Homo sapiens: one gene and its partners. Each later gene encodes a partner of the first gene's protein in a complex. Each region holds a gene or a part of one and is shown in the gene's direction. Other genes may lie near its edges. The genes, in order: LSM8, LSM6, PRPF6 and SART1.

Region 1 (4,940 bases):
AATTAATTGATAAATCACATTGTACTTTATAAGAGTTTATTCCTTAAGTGTTTGAATTTACACTTTTTTCTCCTGTGACAGCATCTATTCCCAAGGCAATCAACATTTTAATGGAACGAACTGAGGTTTGCAATTGCTAATGTTATTCTCCCATCCCAGTTTCTACTTGTTTCTTGTAAAAAAGGAGGTTTCTAAATCTTGACTGTTGATTGACAATTAATGGGCTAAATTTCCCATTAGCAAACACTTTTCACATATACACTAATATTAGTATCTAAATTATATTAAAATCTAATTTGGTAGCAATTGACTTGAAATTTGTGATACTTCAACTTGTGCTAGGTTGTAGTTTTGCTTGTATCACTCATAGTTACTAAAAATGCAAAAGGCAAATTTGAAATAACTATAAAAATAAACCTTTAATGAACTTTTTAATATGCAATACTCAATTGTAAATAACCATTATCTTTACTGAATCAGATGTTTCATTAACTGTTAGCAGTTATTTCGAGTTATTTATATATCACAGAATTTTGAACTAAAGATCATCTAGCTGAATTTCCTTTATATTAAAGAAGAGGAGAAAATCTTAATACTAAGTATGTGTGAGCCTGGAGCTGCCATGGAGCATGTAGAGAGAGTCTCCTAGTTGATACCAACTCAGGAAAGCAGAATCAAGCAATAAAGAGACATTTTGGGCCTGATGACATCATTTCAGCACCTGGATCCAGCGATGCCTAAAGATGTGACTCCTAGACTTTTCACTTACATGAGCCAAAACGGTTCCTTTGCATCAATAAATCGCTCTGTGATGCATTTTATAATGTACAACCAAGAATCTCAATATTTATTATTTTGCATTAAATATCAGTAAGTTTGATATAAAAAGCTCAGTAAAATTCATTAATTTGAGAATGTGTCTATATCATAGTAAAGTTTTAAACCTACATAATTTTCAATATTTATACCTTTTACTGCAAAAATAAAAATGAGTTTATCCTTGCCCTAAAGCTGTAAAATTAAACTCTGTACAATTCTAGTTATTTGAAATATAAAATAAAATTATTGGTCATTTCATGTATACATTTGTGGTAACACTTTAACTTTTTCCCTGTAAGGCCATCTTTTGTATGTTTCTGTTTCCATCAAGCAGGCTTTTAATGCAACTTTATCTTCTGGGTTTCCCTAGTCATAATTAAGGGTTTGGCCCTAGTTCACAAGTAATCTTCCAGCACAAATTTTATAAACAAATGCCCTGTGAATCTGCATGGCATAAATCAAGTCTCTAGATCCTGATCACTTCTATGTGAATTTGTAATATTCTGCTTTTGGACTTGTAAGACCAAGAGCAGACTCCCTAAACACAGAGGAGGCAGTAATTTAGGACAGCTTAAACATTCTGGCTGACTGCCTCATCAATGCTATTTAATAACAGAATTCTGGGGATGTCTTGAAATAGATACATTGGCAGTTTTTTTGTTTTTGTTTTTGCTTGTGTCACACATAATGCTGATGAAGAAACCATGAAGTGTCATATGAAAGGAAGTTACGATTATTATTGGTGAGTACATCAGTTAGAATGGTATTTGGCTATAAGCACTGGAAACTCTGACTGCCAGTGGCTTTAACAGGCAGGAGGAGTTCATTTATCTCGAGAGAAAAGAACAGAAAAGTGAAAAGCAAGGCAGTTCAGACTGGGGCACCTACTCAAAGAAGTGACCCAGTACCCAGGCCACTATTTTCTCTTTGCCATCCTTTTGTTCTAATAATTTGCCTGTCATCTCGTGACTCATATTTTCCATCTAATTAGAATAAAGAAAGATGAAATAGGAAAGTGAGATTATCATATGGGAAAAATAAATGCTTTCCCAACTATAACCAGCAGACTATACTGGCAAAATATACTGCTTGAATGCCATTGGCCAGATCTTTGTCATATGGTTACCCTAACTACAAGGGAGGCTAGGAAGGTGAGGGATTTTTTTCCTTTTATAGTGACATTTTGCCACTCCAAATAAAAAAAGGGTTGCTGTTAGGAAAAAGAGAAGAATGGGGATGGGGTGAACAACCAACAATGCTGCCATTGTGCTAGTATAGAAGCAAGTATCTCAGAGGCAGGTGAAAACAACTTCTATGCCCAAACAGAATTCTTTTTTATCTCTGATATAAAATGCAGAATATGAATTTTAATAAATTCCCCAGGTGAGTCATATGCACATTAAAGTTTGAGAAGCACTGATCTATACTGTCTTTCTACACACTTTTTTACCTTACTTTATCCTTCAGGATTCTGGCGTCAAGTCCCTCCCTATCAGTCTTTAAAAACTGTAGCCTTAAATCAGTAGGGATATAGAAGACATGAACAATACTTTCATCCATCTTGACCTAACTGCCATTTATAGAACGTTCTATCCCAAGACATCAGAATATATATTCTTTTTAAACATTTAATGAAAGGATTTAACTCCCAAACTCCAAAGCAAGATGTTCTAAGAAGACTCATTTAAAAAATTAATCTCAAAAAACAGATTTTAAATTGTACAGGAGAAATGCTTATATGAGAACAGAATTATGGGGCACTCTGAATACTAATTTAAGAAAGAAATATAAACCCCTTTTAAAACTCACATAATTTTCCCATTTCCCTTGAAGAAGATACTAATATTTCTGATATCATATAGGAGTAAAAATTGCGGGGAGGTCCTAATATCCAATATTAATAGAGCTGTGATTATTCAAGCTGTAGACTTAAATTTTTTAAATAGAGTAATGGTTGTTTAGTAGAGATTAATATCTAAATAAGGAAAATGAAGAAAGGGACTAAAAATCAAGTAAATAGGATAATTGAGTTTCAATGGGCAAGAATTTTTATATCATGATTTTACCACTCTGAATATCAAAGTCAGTGATGTCTCCAAAAGGCAAAGGGAAGTGTACCAATTTTTGGAGCACTATAAAAAGTGAAAAGTCATCTGCCAGATCTAACATGGTATACTCTAATGGAAAAATCATCAAGATTCTCTTCCTTTTTATGATTCTATAGTAACAGTTTAGTTGAGAAAATAAATCATAATTTGTGATTTCAAACATTTAATATGTGCACATGTATATTATAATATACTCATCCTTTATATTTATCATGCTTTTTTGAATAAATTTGCCACCTTATTGCATATGAAGAATATCTCCATATTCTTACAGCTGTTTTTCTTGGTTGCTTTCTAATTCCTTTCCTCCCTTATTGGTTACCTATGAATTGCTCAGTTCTAACAATGATTTGTAAATTTTAATACTATAGATATATTGCTGTTAATTATTACACCTAAAAATAAATTATTTTACAGAGGCTACTAAGAATGTCCATGTTTTTTTCTGAGATTCTTGCCATATTTTAAGGGTGATATGTAATTATGGGGATAACGGATGGTATGTAAAAATAGCAAGGACACACTTTTTTAAAAAAGAAAAGTTTACATTTGAAGGAAGCCCTGGACTTTGATGATTTAAGAAGAATTTTAATTATTGTCCTCAAGCAAGATTCAATTTTCTGGTTTGATGGGGCTATATTTTTCATTTACTACAGTAAAAAATAAAGCATATGAAACTATAAACAAGACACCTGCATGTGTATGCTTATCATTGCACGATTCACAGTAGCAAAGTCATAGAACCAACCTAAGTGTCCATGAGTGGTTGATTTGATAAAGGAAATATTTCATATATACATATACATATACACACACATACACACATATGTAACATTTTTGTATATATACACAATAACATTTACTGTTTACACATTGTATATAGTGTATATATAGAGTGTATATATAATGTGTGTGTATATATATACACACATTCCATGATATATAATATATAAAATATTTAAATATATATAATATATAATATTATATATATATATAATGGAATACTATGAAGCCATAAAAAAGAATTAAATCATGTCCTTTGCAGCAACATGGATGGAGCTACAGCCCATTATCCTAAGTGAACTAACTTGGAAAGAGAAAATCAACTATCACATTTTCTCACTTATCAGTGGGAGCTAAACAATGTGTACACATGGACACAAAAATGGAAATAATAGACACCTGGGACTACAATGGGGGGAGTATAAGAGGAGGCTCAGGGTTGAAAAATTACCTATTGGGTAATGTTCACTCTATGAGTGATGGGTACACTAGAAACCCCATCTCCACCTTTACACAATATACCCATGTAATAAACATGCACATGTATCCCCTGAATCTAAAATTTAAAAAAAAGGATACAAAATTTAAATTTCAAATTATTACAGAACTCAACTGACAGATTTAAAATACTTTATTTTCCTATACAGCTGAACAGTAGTTATTCATTTGTTAAACTTAGTTTTGGTATGTTCTGGAAAAATATTAAGAATAATGAGTATCAAATTGGGCCAAATAACAATAATATTCATCTATGCTATGTGATCTAATTCAAAGAGTACAGGTTTGGGGTCAGACATATTTGAGATCAATTCCACATTCTGTATATTACTAACTCATTTTTATAAGGCTAGGGTGTGGATTAAATGAGATTAAATGTACATAATCTACAAAAGATTACATTCCTTCCCCCTATTTTATGACTATACATAGAATAGGGTATTCATTAGGTTACCATATAGAGTAGTATTGACAAATATTAGTTTTTGGAAATGAATCTAATTCATTATATATTGAAATGCCAGTTTCATGCCATCCAAATGATCTTTTGTGGAAAGAATTAGTTAAACGTAATTATTAGTAGCAGGTCATTTAGATAAGTGAAATTATAAACGGTACAGGTTGCTTTGGTTTGTTTAAAAAACTAAAGAAAAATGATTGTGTAAGTTCAGGTCCTTCCGAGAAAAAGAAAAAAAAAAAATAGCACACACACACACTGTGGGGGCAATGGGA
Region 2 (8,568 bases), on another chromosome or scaffold:
TTTAAAACCAAAGAACAATTTTTTTTATTTTTATTTATTTTTATTTATTTTTTTATTTAGGGCTTATAGCAGAGATTGTCAACTTCCATTGACATTTTGTGCTGGGCAGTCCTTTGTTGTGGAGGGCCGTCCTGTTAGTTGTAAAATGTTTAGCAACATCCCTGGTCTCTACCCACTAGGATAGCAGTAGCACCACCTTCCTCAGTCATGACAGTTCAGTGTCCCCAGATATTTCCAAGTGTCCCTGAGCAGGGTGGGGCAGGGTTGGGGGTACTGCCCCTAGATGAGAACCATTTGCTTATAGAAATTATCTGGAGAACTTTATAAAATGTAAAATACAGTGCCTTTACCTGAGTAGACTTCGGGAAAATCTGCATTTTAACAAGCATCTCTAGATTTGGAAACAGCTGGTTCTTGAATGACACAAACAGTTGTTTTCTCAGTTTTTGGTGCTCATAATAGAGATTACTTGGTTAGTATTTGTTGAAGTACATGCATGATCCTACTGGTCACTGTATCCATAGTTTGGGCTGATGGGGGCTGGACAGGGATTTTGCTTGGCACTGGCCTTGAATGTCTCTTCCACAGACTTGGGTAGTGTGCTTAGGTACCAGGGACACCAAGTGAGTAAGATATTTTCCCTGTCCCCAAGAAGCTTTAAATTCGCACGGGAGACCAGTCAGCAAATGGAAAAATTACGAAACAGCCTGATAAGGGCCATGACTGAGAGTGGAAAGAGGTGCTCTGAGTGGACTCACTTCGCCTTTGGGAGAGAGGGAGAGAAGTAGCCCCTGCTGCCGAGGAAGGAGGGATTGGTATGAAGCCTTCAAAAGACAGCGAGGAACTCCACTGTGTCCGAAGGGAGGATTTAGAGAGCTGTTCTTCTGCCTATCTGATCGCCTCCTCAGACACTGATCTATTAGTCTAGTGCTGCAATTACTTGGATTGTAATGTTTCCTTGCAATTTTTGCTTTTCAAATTCTTTTCACCCTAAACTGTAAATACGCCAGGAGTAGGTAAAAACTTACAGGTAAACATTGCCAAGAAATAAGGATTTTCATGTCTTCTGCTCAGTGGCATAACTCAAATCACATGAGATAGATTTCTTTGCATCTGTCCATTGTATTTCTCTGAGGCTAATTTACAGCACTTTGTCACGTTAGGTATTTTTTTTCCCCAGTGCTGCTACTCTCCAACTGGATTTCTCACCGCCTCTATTGCGATTCCCCAAGATTTAACCAGAGAATCTTAACATATTCAGAAGGGCAGCTGTACCTGTGAAAGGGCTTGGGCTTTGGGGTCAGCCTTGGCTTTGCTTTCCACCTCACAGGGTTTCTCTGTAAATTGCTTATGAATCTAACTCTGGTAGCACATAGTTGGGTTAATAAAAGTTCTTTTTTTTCTTCATTCTTTTACCAAAAAGAAAAAAATTCCCTGCAGGGCACTTTGCAGATGTTTTCATACTAGACCTCTCAGTAGCTTCTGACAGAAAATATACTGCCTTTGACTTAATAGTCATTTATGAAAATAGGTCATTTAAAACAAGCCTGAGTAGGAGTCAGGGGAGGGAGAGGAGGTATAGAGAGTGATTATGACTTTAATTTTGAAAGGAGAAGTTTTACCAGGGTGACCCTGAAGAAAGGTCTTTTTCCTCTTATGTGTTTATGGTTCAAGAGACTCATCTCTTGCTTCAGAAATTGTCAGAACTGTTTCTTCTGCTTTATCCAATTTAAAAGATGAAAACTTAAAATTACTTGAGCCAAGTGATGGGAAAAATTGTGGTGTCAAGACCAATTTACTCATACAAAATGGATTTATGGGCAAGTCATTAAGTAACAGGGAGTAGCAAGGAAGCCTAATGAAGACTAATGTAAAAGATACGGCTTTCCTAAAGTGATGGATAAAATGTGTTTGAGGCAACCCATATACTCTTTTCCAAATAACCTTAGAAGTATTTTTTTTCCAAGAGGTTTAGTAGAATGTAGATATTCTAGAGAACAGATGAGAAGCTTGTGAGCCCCTCTTGTCATGTGGCTTACAGTATTTTGAGGGAGAAAAGACCCACATAAAGAATACAAAAGAGGGCATAGTGACAGGTTATAGCAAATAAAATCAAATGCCAAACTATGTGATGCCAAAAGTAGGTGAGATGGGCATCTGCACTCTGCTATGGAAAGTAGAGAGTGGAACCCAAGCAAGTTCCTGCTTAAAACCCCTGTTTCCTATCATTGACAACAGTATTTCCCCTTGCCAGTTATTTCCTAGGCTTGTTCAAATAGATTGCTGGCTCCTACCCCAGAACTACTGAGTAGAATCTCCAGCTGATCCTAATGATTCAAGTTTGGGAAACTGACCCAGAGCCTCAACTCTGTGCTCCCTGTGAATGTGGCACAGCTCCCTGCCGCAGAGGCGTCTCCTCCTTGCCTATGTAGATTTTACGTTCTACCCAGACACTTGTTCCGTGCCTTTTCTGACTTCTCTTCTTTCAGCTAGGGGGTGACGCCTTTTCCTTCAAATTCAGCTCAGGTGTTAACTTCCAGAAATTCTTTGATCTGCCAAGCCTGGGGTAAGAGAGTGTTCTCTGCCCTTTTGTGCATAATTCTATCAGAATACACATCACCTTTGTAAAATTCTGCATTTACATGTTTCTTGCCCTCTCTGGAATGTAAACTCTGAGGGCTTAAGGCCTTGTCTTTGTGTTACATTCCCCAACCCTGTGCGCCTGAACTTGACAGGTGCTCCGTGAAAGTTGGAAGTGTTGATTGCCTTCAGGAAGAGATTGATGTTAATTGGAATACAGATAAAGCATAATGGACAAGGCGTTATCTTTGGTGAGCTTAGAAGAACATATCTGTGTTTATAAAAAGGTGTGGAAAGTTAATATTAATAATACTTTTAAAATAACCTATACTGTCAAGCAACTGATAGTCAAGATTTGCATTCTTTTTTCTGACAGTTATTAACTCTTTCCAGCTTTTGCTTTTCAAATGTTTTTAATCTGAAACTGTAAATACTCTATGAGCAGATGAAATTAGTAATAATTAAAGTAGTTAATATCTCCATGAACTAGAATCACATTACAAAGCATTTTAGTGATTTTTAACACAAAATAGCTACTTTTATCTCAGTTTTATACATAATGAAACTGTGGCATAATGGGATTTAGCATCTGTGATAGGAAATGCACCTGACTCATCAGTTGAGTATCAGGCCTTCAGAGTTAATATTCTCTCTAGATGTGTTCAGCCTCAAAACAGCATGTATTCAAAATGTAAATAAGGCGGTTTATAGATGAATGGGAAGATTTGTGTATTTTCACTAAACTCATTAAAGGTACTGAATCTGTTACAGTATTTATTTTGTATTTTTTCACTTTGTACTCAGAACAGTGTAAATAAAATTACTGTGTGATCTGAGTCCTGAATGAAAAGTGGTTGTCCTGAATAGTAGTTGTAATAGTAGTTGTAATTGTAGTTATCTGTTGAGATTGTGGAGCTAATAAAATAAGCTAGAAATTCAGTGGAAAAGTTAAGTTAACATTTGTTGAGCAAAATAATTTATTGCATTTTAAAAACATCTTTCAAACCTTGGGGGCAGTGTAGATTGTCCAAATGATAGCCCAAAATTCAAAGATAATTTCTGAAATTTGTATTTTCTTTTATTTGACTTAGGATGTTGACTTTTCTTGGCTAAATAAAATTATTTTACTTAAATTATGATTGCGTTTGTTTACTCACACTCTTTAAATGAGTTTAAATTCTTCTAGATTTTAAGTTCTTTAAGGCAGAGCCTTTGTGTATGACATGTTTTTGAATTTCCTTGCTCAGTGTGTACATGTACATGTAATTTGTTGAGCCCAGTAACCTAGAGTTCCAGCTTACTACAACTGCTGATCCCGTGTGAATTCACTATGAGAACGTCTCCAAATAATCCTTCTCCACACAAACTCAGATTATTGAGTGGATGGACTTAGAATGAAATAAGCATAGTGGAAGAATGTTTAATGAAAAAATAATGGAAGAATATTTAATGAAAAAATTTCATTGAAAACAAAAGAACAGCTTGAGTTCTTGAAGGGAATCCTTAAAATATTGTATCCATACTAACTTTTAAGTCTCAGTGCTATATAGCTGCTGAATAATAGTGATGCTGAATTTGACTGAAACAGAAAAATTAATTTCTGAAATATTTTTACTCAGTTTTTGCTTAACTACAGTTTTATTAACTTACCAACATATTTTGAAAGAGAGCTATTTTATAAGAAAAGATGCGTTTTGAAAGGAGTGATGTGCAGCTTTGCATGTCTGATGCTGTTGATTTGGGTGTGTAATGCTATCTCTTTTTCTGTGTTAGACTCCTGTTATACTTGAGTTTTAAGACTTTTTTCTTCATTATTTAGAGCACATATCTGCTATAGTCCTAATAGAGTAATTAAAAATCTTTGACTGTGTTATTGACTTTCAGAAAGCTGTTTAAGGTTGTGATTAAGAGTATGGGCTGGCTATCCACTTTCTAGCTGTGTGACCTTGAGCAGAGTGTTTAATCTTTCTGTGTCTTCTTCTTCATGTGTAAAATGAGGATAAAAACAATACCTCCCTTTTAGGGTAGAGCAATTTAAATTGATTAATATATATAAAGTTCTTGGAAAAGTGCTGGCATATAGTACACTCAAAATTACCTTTAGATTATAATTCTTTTCAGAGATACCATTTAGGCATCAGTTGTTCATAAATATGTCTGTTCTATATAATACGGACTTTAAAATAGGGCTGATTTGAACTTGAATGTTCCATCACATTTGGGAACAAATTATTTAATCTTTCTGTGCCTTTACTTTTCATCAGCAAAATGAGGGTATTAAGACCTTCTTCCCATGGTTCTTGTAAAGATGAAATGTGATAGTGTTTATAAAGACCTTAGCAGAATGCTTTGCATAAAATAACCAACCACTCACTGAATGGAAGTGGTAATGGTTGTAATGGGTATACTGACTATGTGTCAGGCAGTAATGATAAGTGATTAAGAGCAGGTGCTTTTGTAAACACAGGACTTTCCCTAATGAGACTGTGCCATGGTGTTGTGGGTACTGATAAGATAATGCATGTAGAATGTTTAGCTTAGTATCTGGCTCATAGTAAGTACTGAAAACATGTTAGCTGTCATGTAGTAGCAGTGGAGTAATACGCGTCTTCTCGCATGGTCCTTTGATACTTCATTTTCTGTAAGTATGTTAAGGGCTTTAAGGGTTTTGTTGAATAATCAACTTTGGTCTTTACCTTTTATTGTTCCTTTTCATATTTTGATTTAGGATTGTTAAAATGAGTCTTCGGAAGCAAACCCCTAGTGACTTCTTAAAGCAAATCATCGGACGACCAGTTGTGGTAAAATTAAATTCTGGAGTGGATTATCGAGGTAATATTTTCATGTTTCAACCTCACTGGTATAACTGAATAAGTAAATGTGACTTACTGATATTTATTAACCTCTTAAGTATACCCAATAGGCCAAAAAAGTACTGGTCATCAGTAGTTTTTATGCATATATCTTTTTCTATCTCTGAGATCATTCCTTTTAGAAGGACAACTCTGACAGTATAGCATGTGCTTCTGCCTTTCAGTGTGATTTGTGTGACTTCTGTCTCCTGTCTCTGCTTTGAGATCATATGTGCCTAAATTCCCTGGTAATAGCTAGGTATTCCTAGTGAACTCAGGTATGAACAACACAACTGAAGAACATCTTGGTGCAGCAGCATTTGTTTTTGCAGGAGTATTCAAGATTGGCAAGCAGCTGTTGAGTATCATTTTACAACCTGAATGTCCCACTCATATAACGTATAATGTGTGTGGCAACAGGGTGAGACTCTGTCTCAAAAAAAAAAATGCCTTTCTGTTCTTGGAGAGAATATTATTTTTAAGAGGCTGCAGTGCTTTTGAAATTAACTTTATAGGAAGAATGGTTTTAAATTCCGTTTTTTAAAGTTACTGAATTTCTTATCTTCCAAGCTAAGGTATGTTAAGTTACCTGAAATATTTGGCAGGTGTAACTATAACTGATTCATTAGCAGAGGGACGTGGTCTCTTGGGTTGCTATAACAGAATACCACAGACTGGGTCATTTTTATTTTCATTTTTTGTATTTTTTTTATTATTTATTTCAGTAGTTTTTGGGGGTACAGGTGGTTTTTTTGGTTACATAGATACGTTCTTTAGTGGTGGTTTCTGAGATTTTGGTGCACCCGTCACCTGAGCACTGTACTGGGTAATTTTCTTTTTTTTTTTTTTTTTTTTGAGACGGAGTCTCGCTCTGTCACCCAGGCTGGAGTGCAGCGGCGCGATCTCGGCTCACTGCAAGCTCCGCCTCTAGACTGGGTAATTTTCAAAAACAGAAGTTTATTTTCTCACAGTTCTGGTGGCTAGGAAATCCAAGATCAAGGTGCCAGCAGGTTCAGTTGTCTGGTGAGGGCTACGTCCTCCAGAGAGGAGGAATGCTGAGTCCTCACGTGGCAGAAGGCAGAGGGCAAACCAGCACACTGCGTGAAGACTTTTTTTTAATGCAGGCCTTCATCCCATTAATGGGCAAGTCCCCATGGTCTGCTTGCTTCTTAAAGGCCCCCACCTCTTAATACTCTCCTATTGCCAAACACCTGAATTTTGGAGGGGACACATTCAAACCATAGCACAGGTTTTTGTGGCCTTTTTTTGGTCTCTTTTCTGAATAATTAATAGTCATAGTAATCTCTTGAGCTTTTTCCTTTGAAATCTCTATTGATTATCCCCACCTAGTAGAGGAGGAGCTAGGACTCAAGTTCAGGCTCGGCTCATAAGCCTTGTTAAGAAACCACTCTGGTGATTATGTACTCCTTTAGCTTCTTGACATTAATAACGTATCTCCAGTTTAATTTTATTTTTATAGTAAAATTAATGGATTCATACGGAATACTGAGGTAGTATAATGTCTCCGTGTACTGCCTCTCACCTGCGAACTTTTGATGATGGGCCCATAGGAAGTAATAGACTTCTAGGGGTTTTAATCTGTTTGACAGTTGATTAAAGTGAGGACATTGTGTTCAATGTCTTCTCAGTACCCACTTTATTGAAGAGATGAACCAGCCTGACCTTTTTTCTCTGTACTCTTTAGGGAAAATTTTTCTATTTATAAAGGCAATACATGTTTTAGTTTTGTTTTAATTTTAGAAATGTAAAAGGAAATAATACAGAAAAGTATATAGAAGAAAGCCAAGGATCCCCAATGCTACTATCCAGAGACAGTTTACCAATTTTGACCTCTATATTAGCATAATTTGACATAAATGGAGTCAACTACATGCAACCTGATTTTTTTTTTAAACGTTGAAACAGTACATTTAGTTTTGTAATAATATAGAGGGTTTAATGGCTGCATAGGAATCTCTTGTGTGGCTGTACCATGGTTTTGCTTTTACTGTTAACCAATTTCCTATTAATGGACATTTAGGTGTTGACCAGTTTTTTGCCACTATAAACAACTCTTCTACTTTGACATATATTGTGAAGTTGACCAAACATCTCTTTAGAATCAATTCCCTGGGCTAGGATTTACAAGTCAGAGAGTATTCCATGGCCCTGCATCAGGGAACTTGGGTTTATCCTTCATGTTCTCACCAACTCTTGTATTAGCTTTTTTTCATCTTTTCCAATCTAATTGGCAACAAGTAATATCTCATTCTACATATATTTTCTTTGTTTACTAGTGAGATTCAGGAGTCTTTCACATGGATAGTAACCATAATTTTTTTTCCTCTTATGAATGGCCTTTATACTATTAAAGCAAAATGTTTTATACTATTAGATAGCCTTACTAAAGGAACGTGCTTATTTTGTGGTTTACAAAACCCCAAAAAACCCCAAAGCAAAACAACAACATACCAAAAAAAAAAAAAAAAGAAAAACTCCAGCAACTCTCTGTAGCAGTTTCTCTTTGAGAAAATGTCTTGTTTTTGGTTTTGTATAGTAGTTTATCTCATGGAAGGAAAGGGTTGTATTTCTAACCCCCTGGGCAGTTTTTTTGTTGTTGTTGTTGCTTGTTTGTTTGTTTGTTTGTTTTTGCCTTTGCTGTGAGAATAGATATTTTAATTAGAAGTGAACTCTTTTTTTTTTTTCTTTTTTCTTTTTTGAGACCGAGTCTCACTCTTTCGCCCAGGCTGGAGTGCAGTGGCTCAGTCTTGGCTCACTGCAACCTCCGCCTCCCAAGTTCAGACGATTCTCCTGCCTCAGCCTCCCAAGTAGCTGGGATTACAGGCACCTGCCACCATGCCTGGCTAATTTTTGTATTTTTAGTAGAGACGGGGTTTCGCCATGTTAGCCAGGCTGATCTTGAACTCCTGACCTCAAGTGATCTGCCAGCTTCTACCTCCCAAAGTACTGGGATTACAGGCATGAGCCACTTTGCCCAGCCTGGACATTTCATTTTGAAATTCTTTTCATTGGTTTTCAAACAGGTTTGCATATTGTGCCTCAGATTTTTCTTGCTCATTTATAATTGCAGTTTGTATGTAAAATAGTACAGCAGGAAACGAGCTAAAGTTGTAGC
Region 3 (8,568 bases), on another chromosome or scaffold:
TATTCAGACCGCCTCACTGAGCCAGGCCTGAGGGTGCCTGGTTGTCATGAGGGGGGTGTGTGTTTTTTTTAAGTACCTTGTCTTTATTTTCACATATAACATCCTAATAGTTTATAACATACTTTTTAATAAGCTATAGAATGCTATATAAAAGTCTGTTACTGTAGCTCAGGCTAATATCATAGAGTGTGCCCTTCTTTGAGCAAATACCATGAGAGGGGACTGGCCTGGGTTTAACCTTTCGCTCTCAGCTGCCTGTTTGAGATGGCATCACTCCTGTGAGTAACTGCAGCGTCCCCTCCACCTGCCCGCTCTCTGCCTGTCACGTGGCTTCCTTCCACCCGCTCTCTTGGGCGGCTGTGCTGATTGGGACGCATTCAGACAGCCCTGGGCACCGGGCTGGGGAGGCTTTGAGGGCAGAGCCTGCGTGTCCACTGGGCTCTGGGCTGTGTGAGCTTCCGTGGCTTGTGGACGCCTTCTCCACATGTCAGTGGCACCCTGGGAGTCCTCTCTCCTGCCCATGTGGGCTCATGAGGACAGGACAGCTGGCTTCCCTTCATCAAGCTCAGGGGAAAGAGCGAGGTTGCGTGTGATGAGTCTACCAGTATAGGATGCGAGTGCCCCATTCAGGGGCTTTGAGAGGGCGTGGGTGGATCCTGGGTAAGATGGCCCTGCACCTGCCCCCGTTATTGCTCGAGTGCTTTAGCAGCCTCTTCACTGTCCTCACTGTACCAGAGTGAACATGGGCCTGTGTGTTTCCAGGTGAGTCTGGATTCTTGCACTGGAGTCGGCTCTGTCATCTCCTCCCTGGGAAGGGCTTGGACCAGACTAATCCTGTAGCAGAGCAAGGCCTGGCTCAGTTCCTGCCTGCCTGCTTTTGATTAAGTGTGATCAGGCGCTGGTCCCTGTGTTCTGACCCCTCTTGACGCTGCTGTACTTGCCCTTCAGGCCAACCCCAACAGTGAGGAGATCTGGCTGGCAGCCGTGAAGCTGGAGTCCGAGAATGATGAGTACGAGCGGGCCCGGAGGCTGCTGGCCAAGGCGCGGAGCAGTGCCCCCACCGCCCGGGTACGCAGTGGCAGGCAGGGCTGGGCCGTCTGGGGTGCATGGTGTGCACATGCGGGCCCCACGCCTGGCTTGGGTGGTGATGGGAGTGAGATGACGGCAGGCAAACGAGACCACAGCACACTCATCTTTGTGATGTGACTAAAACATTCATGTGGCCGGGCGTGGTGGCCGGGCGCGGTGGCTCACGCCTGTAATCTCAGCACTTTGGGAGGCCAAGGCGGACAGATCACCTGAGGGTGGGAGTTTGAGACCAGCCTGACCAACATGGAGAAACCCCGTCTCTACTAAAAATACAAAATTAGCCGGGCGTGGTGGTGCGTGCCTGTAATCCCAGCTGCTCGGGAGGCTGAGGCAGGAGAATCGCTTGAACCCCGGGGGTGGAGGTTGCGGTGAGCTGAGATCGCGCCACTGCACTCCAGCCTGGGCAGCAAGAGGGAAACTGTCTCAGCAACAACAACAACAACAAACATGTTCATACGGCCGGGTGTGGTGGCTCACGCCTGTAATCCCAGCACTTTGGGAGGCCAAGGCAGGTAGATTGTGAGATCAGGAGTTCGACACCAGCCTGACCAACTCTGCTAAAAATACAAAATTAGCTGGGTGTGGTGGCTTGCACCTGTAGTTCCAGCTACTTGGGAGGCTGAGGCAGGAGAATGGTGTGAACCCAGCAGGTGGAGCTTGCAGTGAGCCGAGATCGTGCCACTGCACTCCAGCCTGGGTGACAGAGCGAGACTCTATCTCAAAAAAAAACAAAACAAAACAAAAACATATATTTATCCCCACCTTTTGTGTACACAAACAGGCTATGAAAAGCTTACAAAAGTACACACAGTACTGCAGGTAACAGTGTTGAGGATGAGTGTACCATGAAGCACGTACCCTGGAGCTGATGCCCTGCGTGACAGTGCATGTCTGCCCCACAGGTGTTCATGAAGTCTGTGAAGCTGGAGTGGGTGCAAGACAACATCAGGGCAGCCCAAGATCTGTGCGAGGAGGCCCTGCGGCACTATGAGGACTTCCCCAAGCTGTGGATGATGAAGGGGCAGATCGAGGAGCAGAAGGAGATGATGGAGAAGGCGCGGGAAGCCTATAACCAGGGGGTACGTCTCTGCCTGCACCCTGGGGCTGCAGCTGACCCGGCATTCACAAAACTGAGCCCCCTGGTGCAGGGTCATTGCCCTTCGCCTCTGAGGAGATGTGGAGGGCTGGGGGTTACAGCTGATGGAGCTGCAGACTCAGGACCCAAACCCTGGTCCCCTCGCTGAGTTCTGTGCTTTTCCTTATATGAAGCTGCACACACTGCTCAGAAGTGCAGAGTGTGGCACACCTGCAGTAAAGGCTGGTACGTACAGACCTGTGTGCACAGGTCCACAGCACCACCGCACACCTGTACACCCACAAATGCAGAGTGTGAGGGGTGTTTTTCCATGGACATGGCAGCCCTGAGGGACTCGGTCACCCACTGCAGATGAGAAGCTGGGCATGGCTGTGTCCCAGTTCTTCATAGACACCACCTGAGCTGCTCTCTTACTTGTTGGTTGCAGTTGAAGAAGTGTCCCCACTCCACACCCCTGTGGCTTTTGCTCTCTCGGCTGGAGGAGAAGATTGGGCAGCTTACTCGAGCACGGGCCATTTTGGAAAAGTCTCGTCTGAAGAACCCAAAGAACCCTGGGCTGTGGTGAGTCCTGGAGGGGGCAGCCTGGCCTCTGGGCACAGCTTCCCCATCAGGTGGGCCGCCGTCACCCAGCTGCTTGTGTGGAGTCACTCGTGCAGTGCTTCCAGGCTCAGGGGCTTGGGGGGCGGTAGGTGCTGGCCATGAAAAATCACGGTCCCTGCCTTAGGAGAGTTCGGCCTAGGTACTGTGACAGGCCTGTAGATGGTTTGATGCAGTTTAATTTGTGTTCTGATGGAGGGCGCCTGGGAGAGGGAGGGGTTAATGATGGCTGGGACGAGGGAAGGATGGACCCCGGAGAGCCAGCTCCACAGAGGAGGTGGCGTGGAGAGCCCTGGAGGTGGACAGGAGCCTGCTAGGTGCAGGCTCTGTTCATGGAGGTGCTGCGTCCAGCTCAGGGTGACGGGGCTGGAGCACTGTGCAGGCACTGCCGCAGACAGGCAGCTTCTGGGTGCCTTGTGCGGCCCTGGCTCTCCCAGTCTGGTCTTGTTTGTTCTGGATGCCTTCACCTGCATCTGGACAGCGTCAGGATCTGAGGTCTTGCCTTGGGGCGGTTGCCAGTGGGGCTGGCAGGGATGTGGGCCCCAGCGCCTTGTTTCTGTGGTGGATGAGCTCTGCTGTGGAGGGAATGGAGTTTTTGCTGCTGTGACTGGGTGGAGAGCCCTTTCAGACAAGGCTTCCCAGAAGCTACCAGAATATGTGCTGTTGGTAGACGGCTGTGGGACCTCCGGGGGCCTGTCTCCTCAGGTTGGAGTCCGTGCGGCTGGAGTACCGTGCGGGGCTGAAGAACATCGCAAATACACTCATGGCCAAGGCGCTGCAGGAGTGCCCCAACTCCGGTAAGGGGGTGCCCCGACTCCGGTAAGGGGGTGCCCTGACTCCGGTAAGGGGGTGCCTTGACTCCGGTAAGGGGGTGCTTCCTGGCTTCCCAGACTCCGCAGGGCTGGCACTTCCTGAGGGAGTGGGGGCTCAGGCTTCAGACGGACTTTATTAAAATGTGTAGTTTGTGTGAATCATTTCAGTCAAAAGTTTCAGCTATACTCGGCCGTTAAGACAACTTAATGAAATTCTTGGCCTCAAAATGGGAGAATTTGATTTCATTTCTGAAGTGTTATCATTTCTTTTTCTTTTAAAATTTAAAAGAAATTGGCCAGGTGTGGTGGCTCATGCCTGTAATCTCAGCACTTTGAGAGACTGAGGCGGGAGGATTGCTTGAGTCCAGGAGTCCATTGCTTGAGACCAGCCTGGCCAACATGGTGAAACCCCGTCTCTACTAAAATACAAAAATGAGCTGGGCATGGTGGCGGGCGCCTGTAATCCCAGCTACTCGGGAGGCTGAGGCAGGAGAATTGCTTGAGCCCGGGAGTGGGAGGTTGCAGTGAGCTGAGATTGCGCCATTGCACTCCACCCTGAATGACAGAGTGAGACTCTGCAGGGTGTCCAGTCTGTGCCCTCAGGGCTGCCATGGTTTTGGGTGGGCCAGAGTGCTCATCCTTTGTGGTTCTCCTTGCACAAGTTCTGCGAGCCGTGTGTGGGAGGCCCCTGTCGTGGTCTGAGGACGTCCCGGGTTAGAATCTGTAGGCTGGGCACCTTTCCGGAACCAGAGGCTGGAGTGCAAATCTTTGTTCTTTGTTTCTGAATTATAGGTATCCTGTGGTCTGAGGCCATCTTCCTCGAGGCAAGGCCCCAGAGGAGGACCAAGAGCGTGGATGCCCTGAAGAAGTGTGAGCATGACCCCCATGTGCTCCTGGCCGTGGCCAAGTGAGTGGGGCCCCCACAGGATTGCTGAACCTCGGGGTCCTAATGGGCTCTTTTTCCAGAGTCTGTCTGCCTCTTCCTGGTCATTGTAAAGATGCCCGGCAGCAGGGTGGGCTTCCCCGATCCTCGGCTGCCGTCGCTCCTGCTGTGGTCTGGGGCAGGCGCCTCTCCTGGCAGACACACCTGAGGGTGCCGTGGTCAGAGACTCACTGGGGACGCATGTGATTCACACTGGTGCGCTGGCCGCCGGGTCACAGACTCACTGGGGACGCGTGTGATTCACACTGGTGCGCTGGCCGCCAGGTCAGAGACTCACCGGGGACGCATGTGATTCACACTGGTGCTCTGGTCGCCGGGTCAGAGACTCACTGGGGACGCATGTGATTCACACTGGTGCGCTGGCCGCCGGGTCAGAGACTCACTGGGGACACATGTGATTCACACTGGTGTGCTGGCCGCCGGGTCAGAGACTCACTGGGGACGCGTGTGATTCACACTGGTGCGCTGGCCGCTGGGTCAGAGACTCACTGGGGACGTGACTCTGGAACCTTGCAGGCAGCAGCGGGTAGCCATGGGGCAGAGCATGCAGACTCTAGGCACATGTGGGCAAAGACCCGCCAGGTGTGGGGCACAGCAGGGAGCTCAGGGCCATCCCCGACCCCCAGGGTCCCTGTTTCCTTCTAGAAAGAGGATGACAGTCTGGGAAGGAGCTGGGCCTGAGTGTGGGTCAGGAGGCTGGGAAGTGACCATGTGGGGTGAAGGGAGTTCTTGGAAGAACCCTGGGTTCCTGAGGCTGCAGCTCAGGACGTGGGCTCACCTGGCAGAGGTGGCGTGTCTGGCCCCAGGAGCTCTCCTGTGTCCGGCTTCCCCTCCACCTGCCCCGCCATGGGTCATGCAGAGACAACAGCCTTCCTAGTGCTGGCTTTTGATTCTCTCCATCCCTTCTCCCCAGCACTGGGTGGCAGTGGTGCTTGGTCTCCAGAGGTCTGGGTGCCGCCCCCACAGGCTTGCCTGTAGGGGCACCTCCTCTCCCCTGCCCGCAGGCCCCCGACAGATGAGAGAGGCTCCCCACAGGGAGGCTTGTGTCTGCCTGGTGCTACCTTGGTCCTGCCCTGTGCGTTCACCTCCCAGAGTGACTTCTGGGTGACACTCTGATAGTGCAGCCATAAAACCTTATAAAAGGCTTTGCTAAAGTAAATAAGTCACTCCTTGCTATTCCCAAGCCAGTGTTTTGTGTGTCTGCTATCTGGGTTTGTGCTCTTTAAATCACAGTTTATCTAACACCGGGCAATTAAGAATACCACAAGGCTTAAAAAACAATCAGGTTATCAGAGTGTGAAATTATTCCGTTTGGCAACTGAGACGAACCCGAACAGCTGCCCGGAGTGGAGGCTCCTCGTGTTGTCTCTTGACTACGGTGCCTCTGGCTCCAGGGGGAGGTGACCCTGAGGAGAGGGTGGCAGCAACGCAGAGTCCCGGGCCTGCCAGCATGCTCAGCAGCCAGCGCCCGCCATCCCTTCTCCAGCAGCGGGTGGGGGTGCCATGCACACCCTTACCTGGCCTCTCATAGCATGGACCTCTTCGGGCCCGGTTTTTCAGGTGTGCATGTGTCTGGCAGGCACGGCGGTGTGAATCCAGTGGCCTGAGGGCTGTGGGCTGCAGGCCCAGGCCCTTGTGCTGCCTGGAGCCCATCTTCTCAGTGTTCACTGGGGTTGCTGCTGGAGGCCGGGTGGGGCAGGATGATCCAGCAGGTGTCTCAGTGAGGAGCTGAAACTGTATAACTTTCCCTCATCAAAGTTGCAGTTTAATTTTGTGTCAGGTTTAGTTTCATCTCCTTGTATCTGACCCTAATTTTACGGAGTTGGAAGATCTTTCCCTGCGTGTGAATTTTTTAAGAAACAGTTTGGGACAGGTGCGGTGGCTCATGCCTATAATCCCAGCACTGGGAGGCTGAGGCAGGTGGATCATGAGGTCAGGAGTTTGAGACCACCCTGACCAACACAGTGAAACCCCATCTCTACTAAAAATACAAAAATTAGCCGGGTGTGGTGGCGCATGCCTGTAATCCCAGCTACTCAGGAGGCTGAGGCAGGAGAATCGCTTGAACCTGGGAGGCAGAGCTTGCAGTGAGTCGAGATCGCGCCACTGCACTCCAGCCTGGGCGACAGAGCGAGACTCCTTCTCAAAAAAAAAAAAAAAAAAACAACAAAAAAAAACCAATTTGGTTAGACCCGTGAAGGGCAGCTTCAAGTTAATGATCTGGGGTAATTATTTCTGGATCAGCCGAGGCCCTGATCCTCAGGCCTTCTTGAGGGGAGCACCAGGGCTGCGGGTCAGGGATGAAGCTGATGGCCCTGAAGCCGTTCCCCTGCCCCAGAATACCGTCCTGCAGCCACTCACTCTGGGTTCACGTCCTTCTGCTGGAACAGGCTGTTTTGGAGTCAGCGGAAGATCACCAAGGCCAGGGAGTGGTTCCACCGCACTGTGAAGATTGACTCGGACCTGGGGGATGCCTGGGCCTTCTTCTACAAGTTTGAGCTGCAGCATGGCACTGAGGTGAGGCCCCTCGACAGACCGCCGCTCAGTGCCTTCTGGGACTGTGGCGGGGAGTTCCGCCAGCCCTGGGGGCTCTAGGAGGTGGCCACGGCCAGCGTGACTCTGCCCGGGGTCGGGAGGATGGACCGGGTGTGTGGGGCACAGAATCCTCGACACCTCCCCACAAGGCAGTCTCTGCCTCCACATCCGTTTTCTGGTTATAGCCTCACAGCTCCACACCCTGGAATTGAGGCACCCTGTCCGTTAGGGTGGCCTGTCTGCTGGAGTATTTTAACGAGTTATTTGCTGGCTGGAGCCTGGGCTCACTTTAGGAATGGGAATGGAGTTGGCCTTTTTCTTGGGCCTGAGCCTGAGTGTGGCTTTCTAGGACAGCCTGGGCAGCAGCCCCTCTGCTCCCACCCGCCCCGCTAGAGCCAAGCGTTGTCTGAGCTGTGCTGGAGGCAGTCAGGCTGTCCTGGTCCTCCCTGGAAAGTGTTGCCAGCCCACGTGAACCCTAACTCCTTGTTTGGAGAAGGCAGACGTGAGCACTTGTGTGAGGCACAGACATGGGGAGCCTGGCTCAGTTCCTCATCTGTGGGCTGAGGCTGGTGGGGTCCATGCTCCTCAGGAGGTGGGGCTCCTTTGAGGAACACACCTGAAAGAGCCTTGCCTTCCGGTGCAGGGCCTGTGCCCTCTGGCCCGCCAGTTGGGGTTGGTGCTGCCAGGGCCAGGTCTGCAGGGGCCAGGCGAGAAGCAGGCGAGGTCCGGGGAGTAGCGTGGGAGGACCCCTGCCTGACGTGCCCTGTGGTCCCCCCAGGAGCAGCAGGAGGAGGTGAGGAAGCGCTGTGAGAGTGCAGAGCCTCGGCATGGGGAGCTGTGGTGCGCCGTGTCCAAGGACATCGCCAACTGGCAGAAGAAGATCGGGGACATCCTTAGGCTGGTGGCCGGCCGCATCAAGAACACCTTCTGATTGAGCGGTTGCCATGGCCGGTCTCCGTGGGGCAGGGTTGGGCCGCATGTGGAAGGGCTCTGAGCTGTGTCCTCCTTCATTAAAAGTTTTTATGTCTCGTGTCAGAACAGGCAGCCTGCTGGTTTTCTCTGGGGCCCTTCTCTGGCTCCTGCTTCTGCTGCCCCAGTCTGGCCTGTCCTGGCCTGTCCCATGCCGTCCTGGGGTGGCTGTGATCGCCCTTGCTTGGACAGAAGCCTCTTGCAGACAGCCGGTGTCTCACAGAGGAGGCACTGTGGAGGTGCCCGGGTTCCCCAAGACTGTGGAGAAGGTGGTAGGGGTGCAGATGTTCTGGCCAAAAGCCCTGTGAGGACAGCTGGAGACAGTGGGGACCAAGCTGCATGCAGGACGCAGGTGCTCGCAGGAGCCTGGCAGCCGCCTGCAAGGGTCTTGGTCAGGGGACAGCTGGGGCCTCCCTGGGGTCTGAGTGCAAACAGGAGAACCCAGCTCTGCGCAGGGCCTCTCCACACAGCCTCCCGGGCCCCTCAGGCATGTGCTGAGTGACAGTGTCACCAGTAAGAGGCGTTCT
Region 4 (8,724 bases), on another chromosome or scaffold:
GAAAGGTCAAGTGTGTTTTGGGGGACTGCTTGGGCCAATGTTTAGGGGGATCCTTTCTCCTTCCCAATCTTGCTCTGTTGCCCAGGCTGGAGTGCAGTGGTGTGATCTCAGTTCACTGAAACCTCCATCTCCCGGGCTCAAGCAATTCTCCTGCCTCAGCAACCTGAGTAGCTGGGACCACAGGTGCGCGCCACCACACCTGGCTAATTTTTTTGTATTTTTGGTAGAGACAGGGTTTCACCATATTGCCCCAGCTGTCTCAGACTCCTGACCTCAAGTGATCTGGCTGCCTCGGCCTCCCAGAGTTTTGGGATTACAGGCGTGAGCCACCGCGCCCAGCCAAGTGTTTTGTTTTCACAGTGAGGCAGGAAGTGTAAGGTTCAGAACTCCAAGTGGCAGGTGCAGCAAAAAGAGTGATTCAACCTCACTCCTTTTACTTTCTATTTGAGAGGGCTAAGGCATAAGTAGGTATCTCCCATGCAGTCTCTCAGCCATTACAGCCTATGAACTTCGCTGTCTGAGCGGAACAGGAGACTCTGTCCTGCCTAGGAAGGGCAGGCACAAAAGAGGTTGTCCTGTGGGAGGGAGGGATGTGTCTCCTTCCATTCTGAGATGATGGACGGGGCTGACACCCATAGGCACCACTTCCCTTTCTGCTCAGGGCTCCTGTCATTGTTTTTTTGAGACAAAGTCTCGCTCTGTCGCCAGGCTGGAGTACAGTGGTGCAATCTCGCCTCACCATAACCTCCAACTCCCCAGTTCAGACGATTCTCCTGCCTCAGCCTCCCAAGTAGCTGGGATTACAGGCGCACGCCACCACTCCCAGCTAACTTTTGTATTTTTAGTAGAGACAGGGTTTCACCATGTTGGCCAGGATGGTCTCGATCTCCTGACCTCGAGATCTGCCCGCCTCGGCCAGCTCCTGTCACTTCTAACAGAAATAGCATAAAGTATCCAGCAGGAAAAGTGCACACAATATCACAGAAAAGATAGGGACTGCCAGCTCATTTCCCACCTCCCCTTGTAACTGCCATAAATTCCTTCCTAAATGGTGAAAGCCGTTTTTGCAGTAACTTGTGTTCCGGGCCATGGGTTTTCAAGTCCATGTCTTTTTCTCAATGAAGGATGGTTCCTTCCCTGGCACAGGGCCACAGCAAGGGTGGCATGGCCCAGCAAGGCTGAGTTTTTCCACCGGGCCCAGCACAATCGCTGAGGTCCCAGTACAGGTCTTGGGGTCTTGTCTGTGTCTCCCCTCCCCTCCTGTCCTCTTGTCTGCGTCTTCCCTCCCCTCCTGTCCATGGGTGCTGCCTCCACACCTCAAGGCCTCTCTTACATGCTTCACAGATGGATGCCTGGTCCCATGTGGGTGTGGCTCGAAGGTCCCTCTTGCTGCTAGAGTGCTCTCTTCATGAGTGGCAGTGATACTCAAGTTTGTCAAACAGACACATTTCTGACAAGTGCACAAACTGGGTTTTGGGTTTTTTGAGACAGGGTCTTGCTCTGTTGCCCAGGCTGGAGTGCAGTGGCACAATCTCAGCTCACTGTAGCCTAGACCTCCGAGGCTCAAGCGATCCTCCCACCTTGGCCTCCCAACTACCCAGGACTACAGGTGCATACCACCATGTCTGGCTAATTTTTGTAGAGACAGGATTTCACCATGTTGCCCAGTCTGGTCTCAAACTCTTGGGCTCAAGTGATCCACCCTCCTTGGCCTTCCAAAGTGCTGGGATTACAGGTGCGAGCCACCACGCCTGGCCAAATTGGGTTTTTATAAATGAAAATTGTGCTTCCCCAGTGGAACCCTGATCTCTCAGGGGTGTGTTTTTTAAATTTGAAACATATTTTTTTTTAGTTTCTCTGTCCCATTTTCCAAGCTGTCTGCTTACAAGAACCACAGAGAATGCTGGCAAGCTTGTCCGATCCCTACTATAGCACAGTGAAATAAACTGAGCCCAGAGCCAAGAGCCCAGAGAGAGGCCTCACCCAAAGTCACACAACCAACAACCACAGCTCCCCCTCAAGGGAAAGAGGATGGGGAGGGGAAGCTATGTAAGCACGTGTCTGGAAGCTCAGAAGCCAGCACTGGCCCCTTTCCCATGGGGCTGGCACAGGAGGATGGGCAAGCCCCAGCTGCACAGGGCTCGGCCCCTCACTTCCCAGCTGCACAACTTTGAACAAGTCCCTCAACCCTCCCGATCCATCCGTAAATTGGGTGAATAATTTCCACCTTGGCTGACTTCACAAGGAATCCAGGCAAGAATGGGAATGAAATAGCTTTGTAAAGGTGAGGGTGAGGACATGAATATCAAGTCCTTAGTGAAGATAAGCGGGCTCAGGAATGGAGATCAACAGTTGTGTCCATGGTTAGCTGCACAAAGGCCTGTCTCCCCTGCAGGCGCCAGGAGCGACAGCGCTTTGCTGAGTACCAGGCGGAGCTGCAAGGCATCCAGCACAGGGTGCAGGCCCGGCCCTTCCTGTTCCAGCAGGCTATGCAGGTGAGGCTGGCACCTGGGCAAGCACATAGCTGCCCCCTGTGAAGAGCTGGCTGAGTGGGTAGGGAAGCAGGATGCGAGTAGGTCCCTGCAGATAGGATCCCAGGGCTGCTGCCCTCTGGAATCCCTGGGACCCCCTCAGTAACCCGATCCCCACCTTGCCCTCGGCAGCCCTGGTGCAGAGCAGGAAGCCGTCTTCTCTCTCCTCAGGCCAATGCCCGGCTCACCGTCACTCGGCGCTTCTCCCAGGTGCTGTCAGCACTGGGGCTGGATGAGGAGCAGCTGCTGTCTGAGGCAGGAAAGGTGGACAGAGAGGGCACCCCCAGGAAACCCAGGTGAGTCTCCCCGTCAGGTCAAGAACTGACTCTGCCATGCTGCTGCGGGAAGGGGCGCCCACACCAGCACTCTGGGCTCTGGAGGGCCTCCCCCAGGACAGGCAGAGAGCCCAGAGGAAGGCAAGGCCAGGGTTGTCATTCCTACTTCTCAATGAGGAAACTAAGGACCTGAGGGGAAGGGCCTTCTTTAAGGACGCAGGAGCGAACAAGCAGCAGAACCAGTCTGGGACTCTGCAACCATCTGAGCGGCCACACACCAAGTCCCTCATTAGGGGCTGGCACCACCACGCTGGTCACCCCATGCCTTAGAATAACCTGGTACAGAGCAGCGATTATGAAGCCCACTTGACAATAAGGAAAGTGAGACTCGAGAAGAGTCACTTTGCCCAGGATCACACAGCAAGCCGGCACTGAAGCAGGGTTTGAAGCCACATTGTCAGTGGTTTCCTTGGGCATGGGGGTGGGAGCTGCAGAGTCAGGGGCCTCTATCTGTGTCTTGAAGGAGCCACAGGTCAATGGGGGTGAGAATGGAGCACTCTCCTCAGAGGCCCCCAAGGACAGAACCCACCGGCAGCCAGCCTGACAGGCACTACAACCCCAGCCTGGACCCGGAGTGCAGTCCCTGAGATAAAATTAAAGGCTTTATGGCAAACACAGTATGAGATTTCTGGTGGTGGGGGTGGTGGAAGCTACGGGTTGGAAGTTGGAGGTGGCAGGTGGGTGGGCAGCAGGCTTAGCTCTGTCCCCGCACCCCCTCCCCACCAGGAGCTTTGGCTCTTTTGGTTCCCCCCACCCAGTACACACAGCCCCTTCTCTGCTCCTGAGGAGTGGGGACATCTCAAAGAGCAAGAGCTGTGACTTCTCCACCCCATCTCCAATGTATATGTTGGGTCCTATAAATTCAAGCATGAATAAGATGAAATGACTCCTGCCTCTGAGGACGCCCAGTGAGTGGGAGAGGGGGTGGATCCTTAAAGGGGCGCATACAACATAGCCTAACACATGCTGAGTTGTGCCACACAGGGAGCCACAGACTGAGCAACCACTGGGTGAGGGGAGGGGTTTCAGGAGAGATTGGGATTGTGTGCACTGCGCTTTTTTTTTTTTTTTTTAAGACAGAGTCTCGCTCTGTCACCAGGCCGGAGTGCAATGGTGTGATCTCAACTCACTGCAACCTCTGCCTCCCAGGTTCAAGCGATTCTCCTGCCTCAGCCTCCTGAGTAGCTGGGACTACAGGTGTGCGCCACCACACCCAGCTAATTTTTGTATTTTTAGTAGAGACGGGGTTTTACCATGTAGGCCAGGATGGTCTCGATCTCTTGACCTCGTGATTCGCCTGCCTTGGCCTCCCAAAGTGCTGGGATTACAGGCGTGAGCCACCGCGCCCGGCCTGCACTGGGGTTTTAAGTCCCAATAGTTTTAAGTTAGGGCTGGTCTCCTCAAGAAAAAAACTCATACACACAGATGTGCCACATTTTGCATTCAATTTCAGGGGTTCCAGGGATACACTGACGCCCATGTGGAGCTCCTAAACAATCTTAACAGTTCACGGGGCCAGGTTTTAAAAATCCAATCCAGGGCCAGGCGCAGTGGCGCATGCCTGTAATCTCAGCACTTTGGGAGGCCAAGGCGGGTGTATAGCCTGAGCTCAGGAGTTCGAGACCAGCCTGGCCAACATAGTGACCCCACCCCCTACCCCCGCTCCCCACCAACCATCTACAAAAAAATACAAAAATTAAAGGGGCGTGGTAGCGTACTCTCGTAGTCCCAGCTACTGGGAAGGCTGAGGTGGGAGGATCACTTGAGCCCAGGAGGTCGAGGCTGCAGTGCGCTGTGATCACGCCACTGCACTCCAGCCTGAGCAACAGAGTGAGATCCTATCTCAAGGGAAAAAACAAAACAAAACAAAACAGGGAACGTGGGAAGGAAGCGTTCCCTGACGATACTGGTTATAGCGGGTCTGAAGCTGGGCTGTGGAATTGGAGATCTCGGGAAAACAACACCCGTTGGAGCCACGACCCTAGGAGTCCACTAAGCGAGCGCCCATTGTAGGAGGGAGGTGTCTACGGAAAGACCGTGAGGTAGTGAACACCCCGTTGCCGGTGAAGTGCAAGCGCAGGGAGGCCGGGGAGGAACTTAAAGCCACGAAGACACTGACTTAATGGGCTCTAAGTCCTTCCAGTTCTGGGATCCCACCTCCGGGTTAATTCCGCTTCCCTTGAGGAGCGCATGCGCAATGGGACCACTCGCTCAAAGAACCCACCCGACCCGAGACGGCGCGAATGTGCAGTCGAGCGCTGATCCCGGCCTTCCCATGAGCCTCTGGGGCAGGCTCCAAGGCGAGCGACGGAAGCAGCCGCTCTTAGTTTCCGGCAACACGACAGCGGCTGCCGAGCGACCCGGAAGTATTCCCATTTTGCGTTGTCTGGGCTCGGCGGCAGCCGGGCTCGGAGTGGACGTGCCACTATGGGGTCGTCCAAGAAGCATCGCGGAGAGAAGGAGGCGGCCGGGACGACGGCGGCGGCCGGCACCGGGGGTGCCACCGAGCAGCCGCCGCGGCACCGGGAACACAAAAAACACAAGCACCGGAGTGGCGGCAGTGGCGGTAGCGGTGGCGAACGACGGAAGCGGAGCCGGGAACGTGGGGGCGAGCGCGGGAGCGGGCGGCGCGGGGCCGAAGCTGAGGCCCGGAGCAGCACGCACGGGCGGGAGCGCAGCCAGGCAGAGCCCTCCGAGCGGCGCGTGAAGCGGGAGAAGCGCGATGACGGCTACGAGGCCGGTGAGGAGGCGGGGCCTGCGCAGGGGGCGGGTCGGGCGGGGGTCCCGGAACGCGTGGGTCTGGGTGTGCGCGCAGTGTCAGCGAAGCTCTTCAGGCCAGGAAACCCCCAAGCTGTTTACCAGCTCTATTAAATAGTCTTTCTACGGGATCCCTTGAGCCCAGGAGTTAGAGGCTGCAGTGAGCTGCGGTCCCGCCAGTGTACTCCAGCCTGGGCAACAAAGCGAGACTCTGTCTCAAAAAGAAAAAAGTCTTTCTACGGTTGTTTAGGATTAGAGGTTGACTTTCTCCACTCAGCTGCTTGAGGACAGAGGGCTTCTGTTTTCCTCAGTTGTCTGGTACAATCAGATTCTCAATAAATATGTTGAATGAGTGAATGAAGTAGTGTCAGCATATACAGAGGCAAGAAAAACCTGGTATTGGACGAATCGTGTAGGGCGCATGGTAGAGAAATGAGGGAGTAAGATAGACAGGGATGTGAACACAAAGGACCCTGTACTGTAGTCTCTGTTAAGAACTGTAGATTGTCTTGAGGATAGTAGGGAGCCATGGATGTGAGTTGAGGAGTGAGTTGCTCAGATCCGTATTTTGTAAACATCACTGGATTGAGAATTTAGTCAAAGGTAGTCAGGACTGGAGACCAGGAAACCAGGAGGGCTATAGGCCAGGGGAGGGCTGATGGTGGCCTGCACCAAGGCAGCAGCAGTGGGATTGAGAGAAGTGGACAGGTTGGAGAGGTGTTTTGGAGGAGGAATGAACAGAACTCAGCACTTGTATGAGGGTGGGAAGAAGGAATGGAGGATGACTCCTTGAATTTTGGCTTGAGCAGCCAGATAGGTAGTGGGTGTCATTTCTACTGAAATTGAGGAGTAGGGAAGAGAAGCAGATTTGGAGCGGGGGTGGGGGGAGATAGTTCACTTTTGGGGTTGTCAAGGTTGATGGTAATGGGGAAATCCAGAGTTTGGACTGGATAAAGCCATTGGGAGTCAGTATCTGGGTGGCCAGTGAAGCCCCTGAAAGACTGTGACATGAGAAGAGGGGGTCAGGACTAGAACCTGAGAAATGCCCTTATGTTAGTAGTAGGCAGAGAAAGATGTTACCAAAAAAAGGAGACAGAGTAACCAAAAAGGCAGGAAAACCTTTGTGTCATGGGAACTTTGGGAAGAGAGTATTGTTAGAAGGAGGGAGCGATCAGCAGTCCCACATACCACAGGAGATCAAGCAAAACCAGAACCGAAAAGAACCCACTAGATTTAGAAACGAGGAGGCTGGTGACCTTGGGGAGCCTGGAGAGGTTGGGATCCATGGCCCAGGTGGAGAGAGAAGCCTTTAAGATAAAGGAGAAGGTAGGATGCAGGATGGGAATGCAGGAAAGGAAGAGTTTTTTTTTTGTTTTGTTTTGTTTTTTTGAGACAAAGTCTTGCTCCATTGCCCAGGCTAGAGTGCAGTGGCACGATCTCAGCTCACTGCAAGCTCTGCCTCCTGGGTTCAAGCAATTCTCCTACCTCAGCCTCCCGAGTATCTGGGATTACAGGTGCGCACCACCGTGCCTGGCTAATTTTTATATTTTTAGTAGAGACGGGGTTTCACCATCTTGGCCAGGCTGGTCTTGAACTTCTGACCTCGTGATCCATCTGCCTCGGCCTCCCAAAGTGCTGGGATTACAGGCATGACCCACCATACCCGGCCCAGACCTTGTCTGTTAAAAATGAAAGAAAAAAGTAGAGGGCAGAGTGGTGACTACAGCAGTTTGGATGTCTTGGGTCAGGAAAGGAAGGTGCACAGAAGAGGCAGGGCTCTGAGACTGGACTCGGGCAGAGGAGCTGCTGGGGAGCTTGGGTGGAAGAAGCTGCTGTTTTCTGGTGTTTCAGCAGGCCCAGGTGCTGGTGAGGGGCCCTCATTTTTGTTCCTGCAGCTGGAGCCAACGATGCTGGCTTCTTGGCCCTGTGTTCAGCTCCTGAGCCATGCTTCTTCTTGTTCCAGCTGCCAGCTCCAAAACTAGCTCAGGCGATGCCTCCTCACTCAGCATCGAGGAGACTAAGTGAGTACTGTCTCCCTTGTTTCTACTTTGTTTTTCTAAGAGAGGTGGCTCTGGGGCCAGCACGGGGGAGGCTTTCTCACATGAAAGTGTGCTAATCAGAGTTGGAAAGATTGTTTAAATCATCTTAGCCAACAGTTGACTTATAGAAGAGAAAACTAAAACCTAAGAGTAAAGTGGCATTCACTGGTTAGACGCAGACCAGGCTGGTGCCCATGTTTCCTGCTTTGGAGGCCAGGGCCCTTCCCAGTGTCCTAGGCTGCCTGGGGCAGACTTTGTGTTTGGGACCACTCACTCCCACCCTGTTTCTCCTCTTGTCTGTCTGGAAATGCACATGGCACCCTGTGTCTTTAATAGCCCCTAACACTTGTATCTCTTGTTGTCAGCAAACTCCGGGCAAAGTTGGGGCTGAAACCCTTGGAGGTTAATGCCATCAAGAAGGGTGAGTATGGGGCTGAGGATAGGGTTTGGGGGAAAGAGGCCATCTGAAGGGGTCTTTGAAGAAGGTGGGGTTAGAGGGCAGGTTCAGCACTGTTTAGTGGTCTTACACATGCATATTTGCCGGAAGGCATGAGGTCCCTCCTTGCTGGTATAATGGGGATCTGGGGCTCCGCCTGCTCTCTGAGTTGGAGCTGTGGCCGTCGCATACTCACTCTGGCTGTGAGTTGTTAGATGGACTGGAAGATGTGCACACTTGCTGCAGACTGCGCTGTGCGGGGGTGGGTTTCTTGTTTTTCTTTAAAGCACGATTTGAGGGGCTTTGGAAGCCACAGAGGGTCCTGTTGTGCTGCATGGGTTGGCCAGGAGTGTGGGGACGAAGTGGGAGCAGGGAGGTGAAGGATTGTTCCTTCCTGTCCTGACCCCTTCTGGCCCCCTGAGCTGGAAGGGGGCAGGGTGAGTGGCTCCCTCCTCTCCCCACCAGCCATGGGCGGGCATAGCCTCACGTCTGGGCCCCCCTTCCAGAGGCGGGCACCAAGGAGGAGCCCGTGACAGCTGATGTCATCAACCCTATGGCCTTGCGACAGCGAGAGGAGCTGCGGGAGAAGCTGGCGGCTGCCAAGGAGAAGCGCCTGCTGAACCAAA

The links.
Region 2: LSM8 (region 1) and LSM6 share a complex: the UniProt entries of both Homo sapiens proteins name them as parts of the precatalytic spliceosome.
Region 3: LSM8 (region 1) and PRPF6 share a complex: the UniProt entries of both Homo sapiens proteins name them as parts of the U4/U6-U5 tri-snRNP complex.
Region 4: LSM8 (region 1) and SART1 share a complex: the UniProt entries of both Homo sapiens proteins name them as parts of the U4/U6-U5 tri-snRNP complex.

What each region holds. Positions count from the first base shown.
Region 1 is NC_000007.14:118,200,686-118,205,625, forward strand, and holds the end of LSM8 (LSM8 homolog, U6 small nuclear RNA associated), read left to right. Parts: 3' UTR 1-3,350; downstream 3,351-4,940. UniProt on the Homo sapiens protein: Plays a role in pre-mRNA splicing as component of the U4/U6-U5 tri-snRNP complex that is involved in spliceosome assembly, and as component of the precatalytic spliceosome (spliceosome B complex).
Region 2 is NC_000004.12:146,177,604-146,186,171, forward strand, and holds part of LSM6 (U6 snRNA-associated Sm-like protein LSm6), read left to right. Parts: intron 1-5,302; exon of another isoform or gene 5,303-5,308; 5' UTR 5,309-5,318; coding exon 5,319-5,412; intron 5,413-8,568. UniProt on the Homo sapiens protein: Plays a role in pre-mRNA splicing as component of the U4/U6-U5 tri-snRNP complex that is involved in spliceosome assembly, and as component of the precatalytic spliceosome (spliceosome B complex).
Region 3 is NC_000020.11:64,024,991-64,033,558, forward strand, and holds the end of PRPF6 (pre-mRNA-processing factor 6), read left to right. Parts: intron 1-948; coding exon 949-1,068; intron 1,069-1,991; coding exon 1,992-2,168; intron 2,169-2,612; coding exon 2,613-2,746; intron 2,747-3,487; coding exon 3,488-3,579; intron 3,580-4,386; coding exon 4,387-4,501; exon of another isoform or gene 4,502-4,695; intron 4,696-4,801; exon of another isoform or gene 4,802-5,818; intron 5,819-6,927; coding exon 6,928-7,054; intron 7,055-7,850; coding exon 7,851-8,003; 3' UTR 8,004-8,110; downstream 8,111-8,568. UniProt on the Homo sapiens protein: Involved in pre-mRNA splicing as component of the U4/U6-U5 tri-snRNP complex, one of the building blocks of the spliceosome.
Region 4 is NC_000011.10:65,956,488-65,965,211, forward strand, and holds the start of SART1 (U4/U6.U5 tri-snRNP-associated protein 1), read left to right. Parts: upstream 1-5,246; 5' UTR 5,247-5,293; coding exon 5,294-5,606; intron 5,607-7,586; coding exon 7,587-7,644; intron 7,645-8,027; coding exon 8,028-8,083; intron 8,084-8,604; coding exon 8,605-8,724. Other genes in the region: TSGA10IP (testis-specific protein 10-interacting protein), read left to right, coding at 2,396-2,495, 2,664-2,827, 3,330-3,453. UniProt on the Homo sapiens protein: Plays a role in mRNA splicing as a component of the U4/U6-U5 tri-snRNP, one of the building blocks of the spliceosome. May also bind to DNA.